2 separate regions of the Homo sapiens genome follow, and region 1 is linked to region 2. Evidence: fine-mapped expression QTL. Tissue or cell type: macrophages. Region 2 holds a variant in brackets; the other region holds the start of a gene. All regions are shown on one strand. Distances are from middle to middle.

Region 1 (8,170 bases), 39 kb before region 2:
CAAAAAAATTAGCTAGTCTCATAACCCAGTCTTGAAAAAAATAAAGAAATAAAAGAACCACAATGGCACTTCAACCCTCTTAACAGCAACAACTAGGTCCATGGACCTACCCAAAAGTCATTTTCCAGCTCCCTAAATGTATAGTTTGGGATGGATATTGTATTGGAAATTGGCAGAGTCCGACGCTGATTCCTGTCAAGACAGGAACACACAGGACAAGTAAGGAAATGTCAAGGCCTGAATGATTCCATCAGTAAAGCTGTAACATGCTGCTTTTAGATTTAGATGGTTTATTACTTACATAGACAGTGAAAACAAGAATAAGCCCCCAGCCTGGACAACATGGTGAATCCCCATCTCTACAAAAAATACAAAAATTAGCTGAGCATGGTGGTGCACACCCGTAGTCTCAGCTACTCCAAAGGCTGAGGTGGGAGGACCCCTTGAGCCCGGGAGGTCGGGGCTGCAATGAGCCTTGATCGCACCACTGCATTCCAACCTGGGCAACGGAGTGGGACCCTGCCTCAAAAAAAAAAAAAAAAAAAGGCCAGGTGCGGTGGTTCACTACTGTAATCCCAGCACTTTGAGAGGCTAAGGCAGGCGGATCACCTGAGGTCAGGAGTTTGAGACCAGCCTGGCCAACATGGTGAAACCATGCCTACTAAAAATACAAAAATTAGCCAGGCATGGTGGCGGGCACCTGTAATCCCAGCTACTCGGGAGGCTGAGGCAGGAGAATCACTTGAACTTGGGAGGTGGAGGTTGCAGTGAGCCAAGATCATGACACTTCACACCAGCCTGGGAGACAAAGGGACACTCTGTCTCAAAAAAAAAAAAAATTAAATTAAAAAAAAGAGAGAGAGAAAGAAGAATAAGCCAAAGTTGCCAGCTCCCTGTGATTCTTGTCCCATTAAGGACATCACTGAAACAAAAGGCACCAAATGACTGCAACATGAGTAGTGGGACACTCTGTTGCTTAACAGCCACTTCTAGACTCCAGTTAAGCAGTAAGATATTATATACATTTTTGTATTCTGCATTTCCCTTGAGGGAAGGGGGCAAGAAGTCCCACACCTCATCAGAATCTAGGAGGTAGTAAGAAACCATCCCATAACAGCCTCTCAGGGAGACAGGGAAGTGAGTGGGAGATGGCCTTCCACCCTCTCATGTTCCAGCAGGATCACAAGATGTTTTTCCAAGATTCAGGTTAGCTGCAGTTCCCGCCCTTGCCTACATGGCTTATGTGGATCCTGCAAAGCAGCCAGAGCACCATAGCAGAGCTGTTCCCCTATTCTTTGGTCTGTGGAATAGGCTACCATACCGGATAAAGCTAAGAGGAAATCTCTAAAAGTCACTTTCCCAGCCCCCAACTAGGATAGGAAATCATAAACAATAACATGTCCCCAAGGGGAATAGTGGAGATCAGTGCAACCCTTAAAGACGTAATGGTTGGTAGTCTCCATCACATTCCTATTGTCACCGGTGTGGCTCCAGCAAAAACCAGACAAATTCAGGAACTTGACAGTAGACTACTGCAAGTTCAACCAAGTCACAGCCTCAGTTGCAGCTGTGGTATCTTTACTACAGCAGATTCTTAAGACCTCAGGCATATGACATGTGGCCACTGATCTGGCAAATGCTTCTTTTCTATCACTATCAGGAAAGGAGGCCAGAAACAAGAATATATATTTACAGTCTTATTCCAGGACTAAATAAGAATACTTTTATCAAGGCAACGGGGCCAAAGTAAGAAAGAAGTACATGGACAGGCCTCATGGACAGATGGAAAGGTAAGATCGCTACCCTAGCAAAGGGATAATAGATGGGATTTGTATTCAGATTTCTGATAACCAGTCCATACATTAGGACTATACCTGATTGAGGCAATCCAAGTTTTAAAAAAAATTCCAAGATGAAGCAACTTCACAGACCCCCTTCTGTATTCGAATCCCATGAGTATAATGGGATGCCTTTTTTAACGGAATGTGATACTGATCATGAATATTCAGTGTTGCTCCCCAAGGAATGAGTAAATTCTCCTGCCCCCATGAACTCAGGAATGACGATGTGACTTGTTCTCGCCAATAAACTAGGAGAATGTGAAATGTGTCACTTCCAGGCAGCCATTTTAAGAGCTAAATTCTCTTCCTGACTCTGTAATAATGGAAGCATGTATCAAGATGGCGCATCTATCAGCCTAGGTACCTGTGTAATATTAAGAACAGGAACTAGGACTTATCTTTTTATTGCCAGCACCTGATAGAATGCCTGGCACAAAGTAGATGTTTGTAAATAATCTTTGATCAATTAAATAGGGAATAAAATTTCATACCACCTGCAATTAGAAGGAAAGCTACAGGCAAGCAAGGACCATGGCTGTCTTCTCACTACTCCATGGGGGAGCCTCCAGAGAGAGCCTTTCACTTGCGCTGGGATCTATGTGCACCCCTTAACACTTTGTGCCAGACTAAGACACTACCAAGTCAGTTGAAACGACGGAGTGCAAACTCTGGCAGGGGAAACAGTATTAAACCAAATCTCCAAATTATTTTCAATTTCGATTCAAAACTCATGAATGATAGCTTTTTTAAAAAATCAGTTTTTTAAAAAAGCCTAACTTGGGGATATTCGCCCATTGGGCAACCAACACTATGCACTGTCCCTAACACTGCAACAGATCCAGGCAATCAATGCAATTGTATGCGTTTCTTGTTGTCGTTGCCACTGTATTTACACCTCACTTACACAGGGACTGGTAACCCATGCTGCCTTGGCAAGCCAACTGCACTCCTCTGTCCCAACAAGCAGGGCAATGGATTGCGAAGAGGCCTCCTCCGTCCCCAAGCAGCTACGTCGCCCAGGGGAAGAGAGAAGGCGGGAAAGTCCAAGAGAGGAGAAACCAAGGCCCGCGCTTAGGTGGGTGTTTTAGTGACGAGTCTGCGGTTACAGCCGAGCGGAGTTGAAAGGGCTGTTAGAAGAATGGAGCAGAAGTCGCAGTTGGGACGAAGCTGAAGAGAGCTGGCATTCGCCCAGGTCTACAGCCAGCCACCTGGTAACCCCTGCCCCCGCCCCCAGAGCCAATCCAGCGAAACTACCGCGAATTCCCGGGAATTCCCTCCAACTCCGGGAAAACTCCCGGAGGGGCGGGGCAAGAGTGGGAGGAGACCCTGCGCGCGGCCGCCAGCGCTCCGGGATCTCGAGATAGCCGCAGCTCTCGCGATCTTTCTGGAGCCGCACCTCCACGCGGAGTCCGAGCGCGTGTGCTGAGACCCCAGGGTCGGGAGGGCGGAGACTGGGAGGGAGGGAGAAGCCCCTTTGGCCTGCCTTACGGAAGCCTGCGAGGGAGGGTGGTGTCCACTGCCCAGTTCCGTGTCCCGATGCCCAGCGCCAGCGCCAGCCGCAAGAGTCAGGAGAAGCCGCGGGAGATCATGGACGCGGCGGAAGTGGGTTTCCTCCTTTCCTGGGCCTGGGAGGACAGACCCCTGGGCCGGGCTGCGCCGAGGGAGGGAGGAGGGGGAGTGGGGCCCTACAGGTCCTTGTCGGCACGTTCTCCGCAGGCTGCGGGCGTGGGGTCCGGGCGCCTAGAGCCCTTGCCCCAGCAGTGGGGCCAGACCCTCTCCGGACCGCGTTTCTTGCGGGGGTCACCTGGGAGTTTGGCCTACTAGAAGCGTGTCCCCGGGGTGGGGAGGACGGGAAGAACCAGCCGCCCCGGAAGTAGGAGCGCGGCGTCACACTTGAGTCTCTCTGGGTTAGGCACGTCCTGCACGTAATGCACAATCCCTGGGAAAATTTTAATAAGCACTAGTAATCGATATGTACTCAGCCCTCGTGTTCCTAATGCTTTAGCAAGTAATGACAGTACTTAGCAAAACCATCTGCCAATATGTTTAATGACCATTTCCCATGTGACAGCTTTAAAGAACACATGTCATTTTTATTTACTTTCTCCCTCTCAGTGACCCGGTAAGGTAGGTAATAGGAGTTACCGAGAATGCATTTGAGGTGAAGTGACCCCAAATCACGTGGATAATTCATAACACCCAGTGATCCTTCGGTGCTTTTCAGAAATCAAAGTTTGAAACCATCCTACAAGTTATGTGTGCTGTAGTACTGTTAAGCCTTAATTTCCGTCTGGCTCCCTAATTTTTCTATAAGGAGTTCTGAGTTTGTGGTAAGCAACATGAGAAGTAAGGTCATCTTAGAATACTAAATGAGGAAGAGTCACTGAAATATTAATAGTACTAATTATGAATGCAACTTTTTTGTCCTTCACACAATTTAATCTCCTTCTGTTGCCCTCAGGCTTCATTGTGTGACTGTATCTCTCTACTCTGGCCAGGGTTATCTTTTTCTTTAAATTGTTCAGTAAGCGCCTTAAACATGTCTGGTTTTATTTTGGTGTAAACACAAAATCCAGCACCCTCCTGCTCTAAAGGAGAGGATTCCAACAGGTAGCTGTAAAGTGACAGAAACTTAATTGTTTCATACAGATCTTAAGTTACCTTGTAAAAACTAGGGCAATTATTTTTGTGTACTCTTAATCTGCTTAATTACATAAACTATCAGTGTACCCTTACAGATAGTATAGGTCTAGATACAAGGTAGACATTGTGGCAGAGTTATGCCATTTTATAGCTAGAAGAATCTTAGATCATTTTAGAGGTAAAGTAAGATTGAAATAAAGGCCACTTATCTATTTAATAAGTATATTTTGTTAACAGATTGGACCCTAGGTCTTCTGTTTCCTGTTCCTAACTCTAATCTGTAACAAGAAATTTGATATTATTATATTGTCAGTGTCAAACTCCTGTAACCTGGTATCCTGAATCTGGTTTTTAGAAACAGGAAGCTGGTGAATTTTTTGATGATGTTTTACAAAAGGAAAGTTGTAGTTAGCTTATACCCAGCATCTCCAGTTTCTAAAAACTGTGGACATCTGGTGCTCAGAAAGCTTACCCAAAACGTTGGTTCTCTTTGAACATTTCTTCCTGTAATAGGAAGTTAATAAAACTGTGGTACTTCATCCTACTCCCTTCACAGAGGAAATTTATGTCCCTGCTTTGAAGTAGTTTCATCTTTTTGAAGAAGGTAGTTAAGATGTGTTGTACATATGTGTAAATTTTATCTGAGAATGTTATTAAGTATGGTAAATCCATCTAGGAGTGGTGATCTTCAAAACAAACTAACCAGAAACAGTACTTTTCTGTTTTCTGTAGAGTACATATGTAAATGAATGAGAGATTTCCACATTATGAAACTACTGACTTTCTGAATTAATAAAATGATCCTGAAAGTTAAATTCATTTTTATATTCTATTATTAGTATTTATGTGTTTACTGTGCTCTTAGTGTTTACATAAAAAGTCACGATGCAAAAAACTTTTTTTGTAGGATTATGCTAAAGAGAGATATGGAATATCTTCAATGATACAATCACAAGAAAAACCAGGTTAGTAGCTATGTGACAGTAAATAAAGCTTTTTTGCTTTCTAATTCCAGGAAAGCTCTAAATGAAATTTTAAGTAAGGTTGGCATAAATCTGAAGGTATAATTCTGAAAAGCTTAAATGACATTAATAATCCAAGTAGATGTCATAACCCTGTGTAAACATTGTCAGTTTAGGGTTCCAACTCTAGAAAAGGAAAAAAAATGTTATTAGGTATTGTAGGTTAAATGGTATGTTTTAAATGGTAGATTATATTTTTTAAATATTCCTAAATTATTAGGTAAGATTCAACCGTTGTCTAGGAGATAGGAGAGTGGCTAATAACTGCCTTCATCACATGTAGCCTTTTTGCATGCTTTAATAAAGCTACCTCTTTTACTTCCCCCAACCCCCACAACTTTACTTCTCTGACTGTTTTTAGCTATTATTTATTCCTATTTTGCTTGACTCTTCCCAAACATTTATATTTTCACTTATTCTCTACAGCATCCTTGAAAACTAAGGAACCAAAGTTGAAAGATAAGAAACTTGACTTACACAGAGTCTGCCAGACTTGGGATTAGAACCAAAGGCCATCTGACCCTAGAGTCCATGGGTCCTTCCATCTTACATCTTCTCTGGCTTCTTTGGCAGTACTATGATTTGAGTTTTAAAGCCTCCACCCCCACTCCATTTTGTTTACTCGTAGCTTTAGTGTCTGGGAATGAAATGAATTATTCTTAGACCCCAGTCTATCTTTTCTTATAACCGCTCTTTTTTGTTAGTGTATGTTGGCATCTTTATATTTCTTTTTTTTTTTTTTGGGAGACAGAGGCTCGCTCTGTCGCCCAGGCTGGAGTGCAGTGGCATGATCTCGGCTCACTTCAACTTCCGCCTCCCAAGTTCCTACAATTCTCCTGCCTCAGCCTCCTGAGCAGCTGGGACTACAGGCGCACACCGCCACGCCTCACTTTTTTTTTGTATTTTAGTAGAGATGGGGTTTCACTGTGTTGCCCAGGCTGATCTCGAACTCCTGAACTCAAGGCAATCCACCCACCTCGGCCTCCCAAAGTGCTAGGATTACAGGTGTGAGCCACCGCACCCGGCCTTATATTTCTTTGAAATTGACCTGACTCATGTTGTTTCTCTCAGACCTGTAGATTTTTTATTTATAAATGTTTGCCTTTCTTTTACTTCTATTCTATATATGTAATTTCAACAGATTTGTCTTACTTAACTATTTGACAGTAATTTTTCTTTTGGTAGACACTTCAAATTACGTCTCTCACTCTTTGGTGCAGTAATTGTAGACGTTTACATTCTTGCCCATTGGAAGCACTGCTTCCAGTTTAGAGGGCTGCCTATGAATATTATGCTTTGGAAATAAAACACCTCTAGGTTAATTTTATTGTTATATTTGATTTGCCACATGATCACAAAATCACTTTTCTTTCCCAGGCTTGTTGGGAAAGAATACAATAAAAGACCAAAATTCAGAGACTGAGTTGGGAGGATCACTTGAGCCCAGGAATTTGAAACTAGCCTGGGAAACATAGTGAGACCCCATCTCTACAGAAAGTAAAAAAATTAGCTAGGCGTGGTGGCATACACCTTTTATCCCAGCTACTCAGGAGGCTGATGGGAGGATCACTTGAGCCTGTGAGGTCAAGGCTGCGGTGAGCCACGATCACACCACTGGACTTCAGCCTGGGCAACAGAGTGAGACCCTGTCAAAAAAAAAAAAAAGCCAAAATTTCTGAAAATCATTTCCAAAACATAAAGATGAAATAAAGTAATTGAGTACAGGTTGAGTATCCCTTAGCCAAAATGCTTGAGACCACAAAAGTGTTTTGGACTTTATTTTTTTGGACTTTGGAATATTTGCATTATATTTACCACTTGAGCATCCCTAATCTGAAAATCCAAAATCCTCCGATGAGCATCTCCTTTGACCATCATGTCAGCACTCAAAAAGTTTTGGATTTGGGAGCATTCCGGGTTTTCGGGTTAGGAATGCTCAACCTATGTAAAATAGACTATGAGCAATAGAGTATAGGGGATGATATTCCTCTGCCAGGGCAAGCAGGAGGAGACACTTGAGACTTTGTTTTCAGGTTAGGTGTCTTTCTCAACTGTACTTCCTTGAGCTGTAACACAAAGAAGCTCACTGGAGTTTAGGTCTTTAACATAGGCCCAAAGCAGCCATTAACATAATTGCTGTTGTTCTTTTGCTGGCAAATCCACAGACAGTTGCGTTCTTCCACTTAGAGAGAAAGATAACCTATGTATGTAAAATTCGGCCTTTGGTTTTACCTCTGCAAAAATGCCAATTCTTTGCTCAAGGTGGTTTCCTTTCTCATCTGCTTCCATTTCTCTGCATTAATCACTCTGATGCCCATGACTCTTAAAAGTGCAGTTTTCAAACTGAAATCCTACTACCTTGGTTGTTACTGGTTAGCCAGTCATAGTGATGTGAGTATGGCATGGGCTTCGGGTATGTTCGGGTGTATTAAAGGTTGAGAACCCCTATGCTAGTTAATTGCCATGCCACAAGAAAGAAGAGCCATTACCCTTTTTCTTCTCCAAAGTGCTAGTAAAATTATCCTAATTATCGCATATCTCTTAGACTTCTGCTTTTCTGTTTTGTGTGGTTTTGAGTTGTGATTGCTTGGTTAGCCATTGCTTTTTCAGTCTTGGCATTTTCAAATCTGCCTTTTAAAATCTTCTGCTGATGTGTCTGTCTTT
Region 2 (8,000 bases):
TAAAAAGTTGATTCACTAATTGGATTTAAGTGCCACAGGACTCTTCACACATTATTTTAATCAATTTGTTGGAAAGATCAATTTTCTCATGGATGAATGCATATAAAAATGAAGCAATTGAATGAGTTACATAGGAAGGTTGGCACATCTAATTCCCTAGAGGTTCTAGGAACAGGTTCTTAATTATATATCTGAAATGGTTTGAGGTTTTTAAATGAAATTTGTCTAGAAGCAGGAAGATGCAATACCCATCTATCCAGGCCTGTATTTCTGGATCCCCATCTTATCTAATATTTAATAGTTGATCCTGAAGTTGAGATATTATCCCTTTATTCTTTTAAAAAAAATTTTTTTGTATGTGTGCCATTTTAAAGTAATTAACAGAGTAGTTTGTGTTAGTTTTGGTTAAGTGTTATAAAGCCAGTTTTTTTTTAAAGGAAGTCCTGGAGGCCTTTTTGTATTGACTGTTAGAGAGGACAGTGAGTGTAAACACAAGTTTTTAAAGTTTAAAGTTACAGTGCCCACTATAAAGGACTACAATTAATGTGAAAAGTAGTTTTAAAGTTAAAATTTATATATCGCTGTTTGTGCTTATATAATACTTCCCACTCTCCCCAAACATAGAGGTATTCTGATTCTGAAAATAAGCCTTTTTTAGTACCATTATGTGTATACATATATATTTTATTTTATTTTTCTTTATATTAGTCATTGTGGTTAAATGATTTATTGGTAGCTGATGAGTCACAAGTATGTTTCTCATTCTCTAATGAGTCACCTAGCTACCTACAAGTTTGTTTATTTTCTTTCCTTTCTAGATCTTTCACCTAAAATAGGTGTTTTACTAGTTGGTAGGTTAAAATTTCAGTTTGCTACATTAACTTTTTTTTTTTTTTTGGAGACGGGAGACGGAGTCTCGCTTTGTCACCTAGGCTGGAATGCAGTGGCACAATCTTGACTCTCTGCAGCCTCTGCCTCCCAGGTTAAAGCGATTCTCTACCTCAGCCTCCCGAGTATCTAGGACTACAGGCACACGCTACCACGCCCAGCTAAATTTTTTTTGTGTACTTTTAGTGGAGACGGGGTTTCACCATGTTGGCCAGGCTGCTCTCAAACTCCTGACCTCAAGTGATCCACCCGCCCTGGCCTCCCAAAGTGCTGAGATTACAGGCATGAGCCACTGTACCCAGCCTACATTAACTATTAGATCTGGAAAATACCAAAATAATACTCAGAAGAAGTCTCATTGATTTTTACAAACTTGTATTTAGCACGTGCTCTGGTCCAGGTACTCTGCTGGGCTTGAGTATGCAAAGATTTATGTGTGTCATATATATCTTAGGAGAAGCTTAATTTTGGGAGAGGGCAAGGGAGATAAACAACTGCATGCAGAGGCAGGGTATACAGGTGCTGTGATAGGAGTGTATATTGTCTGTAGTTGAGGCCCAAAGAGAGGTGTGCATGTGGATACCCCTTGAGCATCCATATGGATAAGTTGGTGAATGTAGGCAAGGCCATTATACTGTTGTGTATTGCAACTCCTTGAACAGTTGCACCTACATTTTATACCTCTTTGTTGGAACAGGGTATTTATCTGTTAGAGGAAAAACAGCTTCTATTTTCAGTCCTGTCCACTGCAACATCTGTATTGAAAATTTGGATAATGCTAAAGGTGTGCTAAGAAAAAAAACGGGTCTAAAATCTGCTGTCAGAAATTTTCAGATCGTTTGTGGGATTAATTCTCCTGGGCTAAATATAACTTTGTATAAAACAATATGAAATTATTATTTAAAGATTTTGCTGAATTTCTACTAAGGTTGGCAACAACAGCAAAACATCAAGATACATCAGTGTTACTGGGGAAGGTAGTATGATTCCTGGACATTTGGGAAACTATTACTAAAGGGCCTATTATTTTCAGTTGTTGTTGTTTTTTTGTTTTTTTTTTTTTCACAGAAACTATAAAGCAATCTAGCAGCTCATGAGCTTCTAAGAATGAAAATGTATTATTTCATAGTGAGCTGATGATGCATTCTGAGATATTTAAATTTAGTTCTAATTTGTCAGTCTGTAACAGAACTGTCTAGTGCAATAATCATTAAATGATCTTATTAGCTATGTGATGGTAGTCTAATTACTTAACCTTGTAGAGTCTCAGTTTTCTCATCTGTAAAATGTTGATAATACCTACCGTGTAGGCCTTTGTGAAGCGCAAATGAGATAGTGTCTACCTAAAGCACTTCACACAGAACCTGGAACATAAAAGGGAATTGCTAAAGAAATAATAGAAATAATACTTTAGGGATTTAGTTGTTAAATCTCTTTTCTTTTTTCTCTTTTTTCTTTCTTTCTTTTTTTTTTTTTTCTGAGATGGAGTCTCGTTCTGTCACCCAGGCAGGAGTGCAGTGGCACGATCTCTGCTCACTGTAACCTCTGTCTCCTGGGTTCAAGCAATTCTTCTGCCTCAGCCTCCAGAGTAGCTGGGGCTACAGGGCCACGCCACCACACCCAGCTAATTTTTTTGTATTTTTAGTAGAGACTGGGTTTCACCATGTTGGCCACGCTGGTCTTAAACTCCTGACCTCAGGTCATCCACCCACCCCGACCTCCCAGAAGTGCTGGGATTACAGGCATGAGCCACCGTGCCTGGGCTAAAATCACTTTCATTTGAGCTATAAAAATAAAAGTGTGTTTGCCAGGCATGGTGGCTCACGCCTGTAATCCCACCACTTTGGGAAGCAGAGGCAGGTGGATCACTTGAGCCCAGGAGTTCGAGACCATCCTGGGCAACATGATGAAACCCTGTCTCTACATAAAATACAGAAATTAGCCGGGCGTGGTGGTGCCTGCCTGTAGTCCCAGCTACTCAGGAGTCTGAAGTGGGAGGGTCACTTGAACCTAGGAGATGAGTTTGCAGTGAGTTGATCCCAGTGATTCTTCTCTATATGCTCAGGAGGACTCGTCAGAGTCAAAACCTGATACTGGGACCCAGCAGCAAGAGATAAACTGCTTTTTCCCCCGATTTATGTCTCCATTTATTTGCAAGATGGTGACCTCTTTGACTGGAGTTGTGTGCTGTTAAATATTTTTTCACGTGTCTCCTATACAGAAATTATACCTTCACCCTTGATTTTCAGATCATCTACGGTAGCCATTTCTCAGGGTTTATGATTCTTGTTCTCTACCCCAGTGCTCTCCAAAGTGTGATATGCTCAAGATTACCCATTGAGGGAAAGAAAATAATTCAACTTCCTTCATTCCGCCTACCCTTTCTTCCCTGCTTTTTTCTTTTATCTAAAAGGATGAGAATGAATTTGAGTTTTTCCAATAGTTAATTTATACATAAACACTGGACCCATAACTTGGATTGCTTCTCAGAAGGTTACATATCACCTATAGCATGTGAGGTTTCTGAAGGAAGATTGTGGGATTCCAGTAATGAAAAGAAGCTAGCAGTGGTACCCTCATTCTCCTCTCTCCTCCCTTCTTTCTTCCCCTCCCCTCCTTTCCTCTCCTGTAGATATTATGCCATCTTCATATACAATGTCAGTTAAAACCATATAATCAGACTCTTTCTACAGTCAGTAGAATTTTATTCTTCTACTGCAGTAATGTACGCAAGTATTCCTGTCTCTCTTGTTTTGACTCTATTTTATATATACACACATAAAACCCTCGGATAGTCTGACCCTTTTTCACAAATGGAACCTTTTTGATTTTAATGTTTTTTCTTCTGAATTCACTCATGTCTACAGTAAGACAAAAATGGATGTAGATACAGATGTAGCTGTATAGAGATAATAGGGCTAAATTGTCCAAAATCATGGAATAGTTTTACTAATGTCTAAATAGGTTATGATTTTTAACAGCTGCATATAATAAGGGGAAATACTGAGATTGGAAGGGTTAAAAAAAATTAACTGTTCTCTATGTCTGATTAATCCTGCCTTCTTTCCCGTTGATTCAGTAGAACAATTTGTAATTGCAGAAATTTATAATAGCTTTGGCCCTAGCTTAAGAAATAGTTTGTGGTTTCAGAAGTTAATTTGTAAGTTGTTTCGTCCTGGAAACAATGTTCTAAGTGGTAGTTGTTTTCTAGACTAGCTGATCTAATATTTTAGCACTCAGTACTACGAAATTAAAGTACTAAAGGTAGATATAGTTCCATGTTTCAGGTCCTGGGTTAAAAGAGTCATCTGGTACTTTTGAATGAGAAAGAAGAGGGAATTTTTTTTTGCTTTAATTGGACCTACAGCCAGCCCTGGGCAGAGTATCTTTGACTACATTCCACCTTCTTTCTAGAAGGATACTAGCATGACGCTCAGTCCTTAAAAGCAGATGTGTTTGGGCCGGGCGCGATGGCTCATGCCTGTAATCCCAGCAGTTTGGGAGGCCAAGACGGGTGGATCACCTGAGGTCAGGAGTTCAAGACCACCCTGGCCAACATGGTGAAACCCTGTCTCTGCTAAACATACAAAAATTAGCCAGGCATGGTGGCACATGCCTGTAATCCCAGCTACTCAGGAGGCTGAGACAGGAGAATCACTTGAACCCGGGAGGCGGAGGTTGCAATGAGTCAAGATGGAGCCACTGCACTCCAGCCTAGGTGACAGAGACAAGACCCTGTCTCAAAAAAAAAAAAGTAGATGTGTTTGACTTGAGTTGGCCTGAAGAAGACTGTCTGATAATGGAAGGTGCAGAGGGCCAGCAAATGCCTTCTAATAGGAGTCAAAGTTTGTGAGA[C/T]GAGGGGACCAAGGGGTCAGGGATATAGAAGAAAGGTAGCAGAGTGGACCTCTACTTGGGACAGGTCAGGTTGCTTGATGAAGCAGTACATTGATCGATACAGAGGAGAAAACCTTCCTTGTGAAGATGTGTGAGATAAGCAATAGAATTCTCACCAGGCCTGAATATACACTCAGTTATCACATTTACTGGTAGGTGGCAGTCAAATTGAAGATAGATTCAGTTCAGTGACACTAGATTGCAAGTATTAGAAAACTTTGTAACAGTCCACTGGAGCCTCTTGATCCCTTCAAGCCTCAGAAGAGCCTTATCTTAGTTCACCAACTACTTCTTTTGCCATAATAAATTCTGAGTTTCTTCAGTAGTCAAGATTTTAGCTAGGTATTAGGTGATAGCCCCAGTGCAGGAGACTTACGAGAGTACAAGAGATATGCATGCTGTTGATTTTTTTTTTTTAAGTTAGTTGGTAACAGACATAAAGATTTCTAGGCAGTGTAGCCAAGTGACATAAACAATTTTCTTTCTTAACTACTCTTCACCTATTATCCTCATTTTGATCCTTTTTCATTGAAATGGATTCTGGTGTTCTCTTGTTTAAAGTAAGTACTGTCTGGTTTCTGGAATGTCTAATTGCACCACAACTACTAAAGACCCAAATCCTCATCAGAATGAATAGAATTTTTCCATGAAAATTAAATCTTATCCTTTTCATCAACTATATTGTGATATACTTTGTCAGTACAAGAATATACACAAAAGTAAAACTGGTACATTTTGTATGGGAATCACCATTTTGGAGTATACATTTTCTTCCTTGGTTATGTACTAGTGATTAAAAAAATAATCATTGTGTTTAATAAGCTACTTTATAAATTTTGTATTTTAGAATTTCAGTGTCTGGTGTTCAGAATTCAAGTTATTATAAAAATAAGCTGTCCAGGAGATGCATTTATTTTACACTCATCATATATTAAACTTCATATAGGCACCCTTTTAAATGGGAGTACACAATCCAATAATCATAAATCTGATGACGGAGTATACTCAGAAGCTAAAGGTAGTGAGGATTTAATTGCAAAACAGCACGCTAATGTCCTCTTATTACCTTAAAATCTTTTCAGTTGACCGTCTTCTATTATTTAATTCCATCACATACCAGTAATTGCATTTATTGAAGCCAGTATTTCTCATTATAGGAAATGCTGATCTTAGTGATTCTCAAAAATAGGGAGGGAAATGTTCTTTAATAAATAATTAAAAGACTTTTTACTACTTTTCCCAATTCGGTACTGGTTTTATTACCTTTTATGTCCAGAGTATTTTATAAGTGGTAACTAAATTATGGCATCTAAAAAATCATCTCTTCAAGGAATCTCACAAGGTATGCTACGTAATAGCTTATTCTAAGTAGGTTAAATAGACTGGCTTTATCTCAAGTGGCTTACTGTATTAAAAAAGAGTTTAACATATTCAGCTTTACTGCTGAAACACCAGAGGAGTTCTGACACCTCTGATGAGATGATTCAAGTTGGGAATTTTTTCTCTTGACAGCATCAACAAAGAGAGCATTGTGGATGTAGAAGGTGTTGTGAGAAAAGTGAATCAGAAAATTGGAAGCTGTACACAGCAAGACGTTGAGTTACATGTTCAGAAGGTAAGTTTTTTCAAAATATAAAATCGCATATAGAAATAGATTTGGGTTCTAATAGTTTTCATGTCAAATTTATATGTTCTTACTAATTAATGTAAAATACTGAGGTTTATAAATTAGTTACTGAATCAATTAGCTTTTGTTATATAACAAATCACCCCAGTACTTAGTGACTTGAAACAACAAACATTTATTTGCTTACAATTCTGTGATGCACCCAACTGAGATGGCTCATCTGCTCCATGCAACATTGGCTGGGCTCACTGATAAATCTGGCACATCTCTTTCTGTGGCTTCCTCTCATCCAGCAGGCTAGCCCAGATATGTTGATATTCAGGTACCAGGAGGGTTCCCAAAGGCAAGAGTGCGAAACCCTAAGAACAGACACTTTTCAAGCTTCTACTTGTGTCACATCTGCTAAATATTCCACTCGTCAAAGTCACACAGCAAAACTTAGATTTAAGGGGTAGAGAAATAGATTCTAGCCCTTGATGGGAGGAAAAGCAACATGATTGCAGGGGAATATACATGCAGGAGCAAGAGGAAGTATTGCAGCCATTTTTGCAAACAGTCTACCACAGCCACATAGGGAAAAATACAAAACACATCTGAAAAACTACTCACCAATATAAGTGAATAATAATGGACCTATCTTGCTATAAGTTTTTTGATGATGTACTTTTATTTTATTTTATTTTTCAGTTTCCATTTTTACTTTTCCTTTATTTTTATACTTTAAGTTCTAGGATACATGTGCACAACGTGCAGGTTTGCTACATATGTATACATGCGCCATGTTGGTGTGCTGCACCCATTAACTCGTCATTTACATTAGGTATATCTCCTGATGCTGTCCCTCCCCCCTCCCCCCACCCCACTACAGGCCCTGATGTGTGATGTTCCCCTTCCTGTGTCCAAGTGATCTCATTGTTCAATTCCCACCTATGAGTGAGAACATGCGGTGTTTGGTTTTCTGCCCTTGTGATAGTTTGCTGAGAATGATGGTTTCCAGCTTCATCCACGTCCCTACAAAGGACATGAACTCATCCTTTTTTATGGCTGCATAGTATTCCATGGTGTATATGTGCCACATTTTCTTAATCCAGTCTATCATTGATGGACATTTGGGTTGGTATCAAGTTTTTGCTATTGCGAATAGTGCCGCAATAAACGTACGTGTGCATGTGTCTTTATAGCAGCATGATTTATAATCCTTTGGGTATATACCCAGTAATGGGATGGCTGGGTCAAATGGTATTTCTAGTTCTAGATCCCTGAGGAATCACCACACTGACTTCCACAATGGTTGAACTCGTTTACAGTCCCACCAACAGTGTAAAAGTGTTCCTATTTCTCCACATCCTCTCCAGCACCTGTTGTTTCCTGACTTTTTAATGATCGCCATTCTAACTGGTGTGAGATGGTATCTCATTGGTTTTGATTTGCATTTCTCTGATGGCCAGTGATGATGAGCATTTTTTCATGTGTCTTTTGGCTGCATAAATGTCTTCTTTTGAGAAGTGTCTGTTCATATCCTTTGCCCACTTTTTGATGGGGTTGTTTTTTTCTTGTAAATTTGTTGGAGTTCATTGTAGATTCTGAATAT

Direction of the effects. Alleles are on the strand shown, and positions count from the first base shown. SD is a standard deviation of normalised expression in the study named.
In carriers of allele C in region 2, the expression in macrophages of the gene that starts at base 3,220 in region 1 tends to be lower than with T alone (large effect, 0.94 SD a copy in Nedelec 2016).

Evidence for each region. PIP is the estimated chance that this variant, and not a neighbour inherited with it, causes the effect.
Region 1: it holds the start of DARS1, and the variant in region 2 is fine-mapped to the expression of DARS1 in macrophages (Nedelec 2016, PIP 0.95).

The regions. Positions count from the first base shown.
Region 1 is chr2:135,980,676-135,988,845 of GRCh38, reverse strand. It overlaps DARS1 (aspartyl-tRNA synthetase 1), which reads left to right and starts at 3,220. Exons shown (of 16, transcript NM_001349.4): 1 at 3,220-3,443; 2 at 5,392-5,449. The coding sequence starts at 3,378. It overlaps DARS1-AS1 (DARS1 antisense RNA 1), which reads right to left and starts at 3,670. Exons shown (of 4, transcript NR_110199.1): 1 at 3,330-3,670. RefSeq lists an enhancer at 3,374-3,473 and a silencer at 3,524-3,583.
Region 2 is chr2:135,941,775-135,949,774 of GRCh38, reverse strand. DARS1 (aspartyl-tRNA synthetase 1) reads left to right here. Exons shown (of 16, transcript NM_001349.4): 5 at 6,295-6,397. Among named protein-coding and RNA genes, the nearest start is that of DARS1-AS1, 39 kb to the left of the region's middle. The variant C/T (reference allele first, on the strand shown) is at 4,744.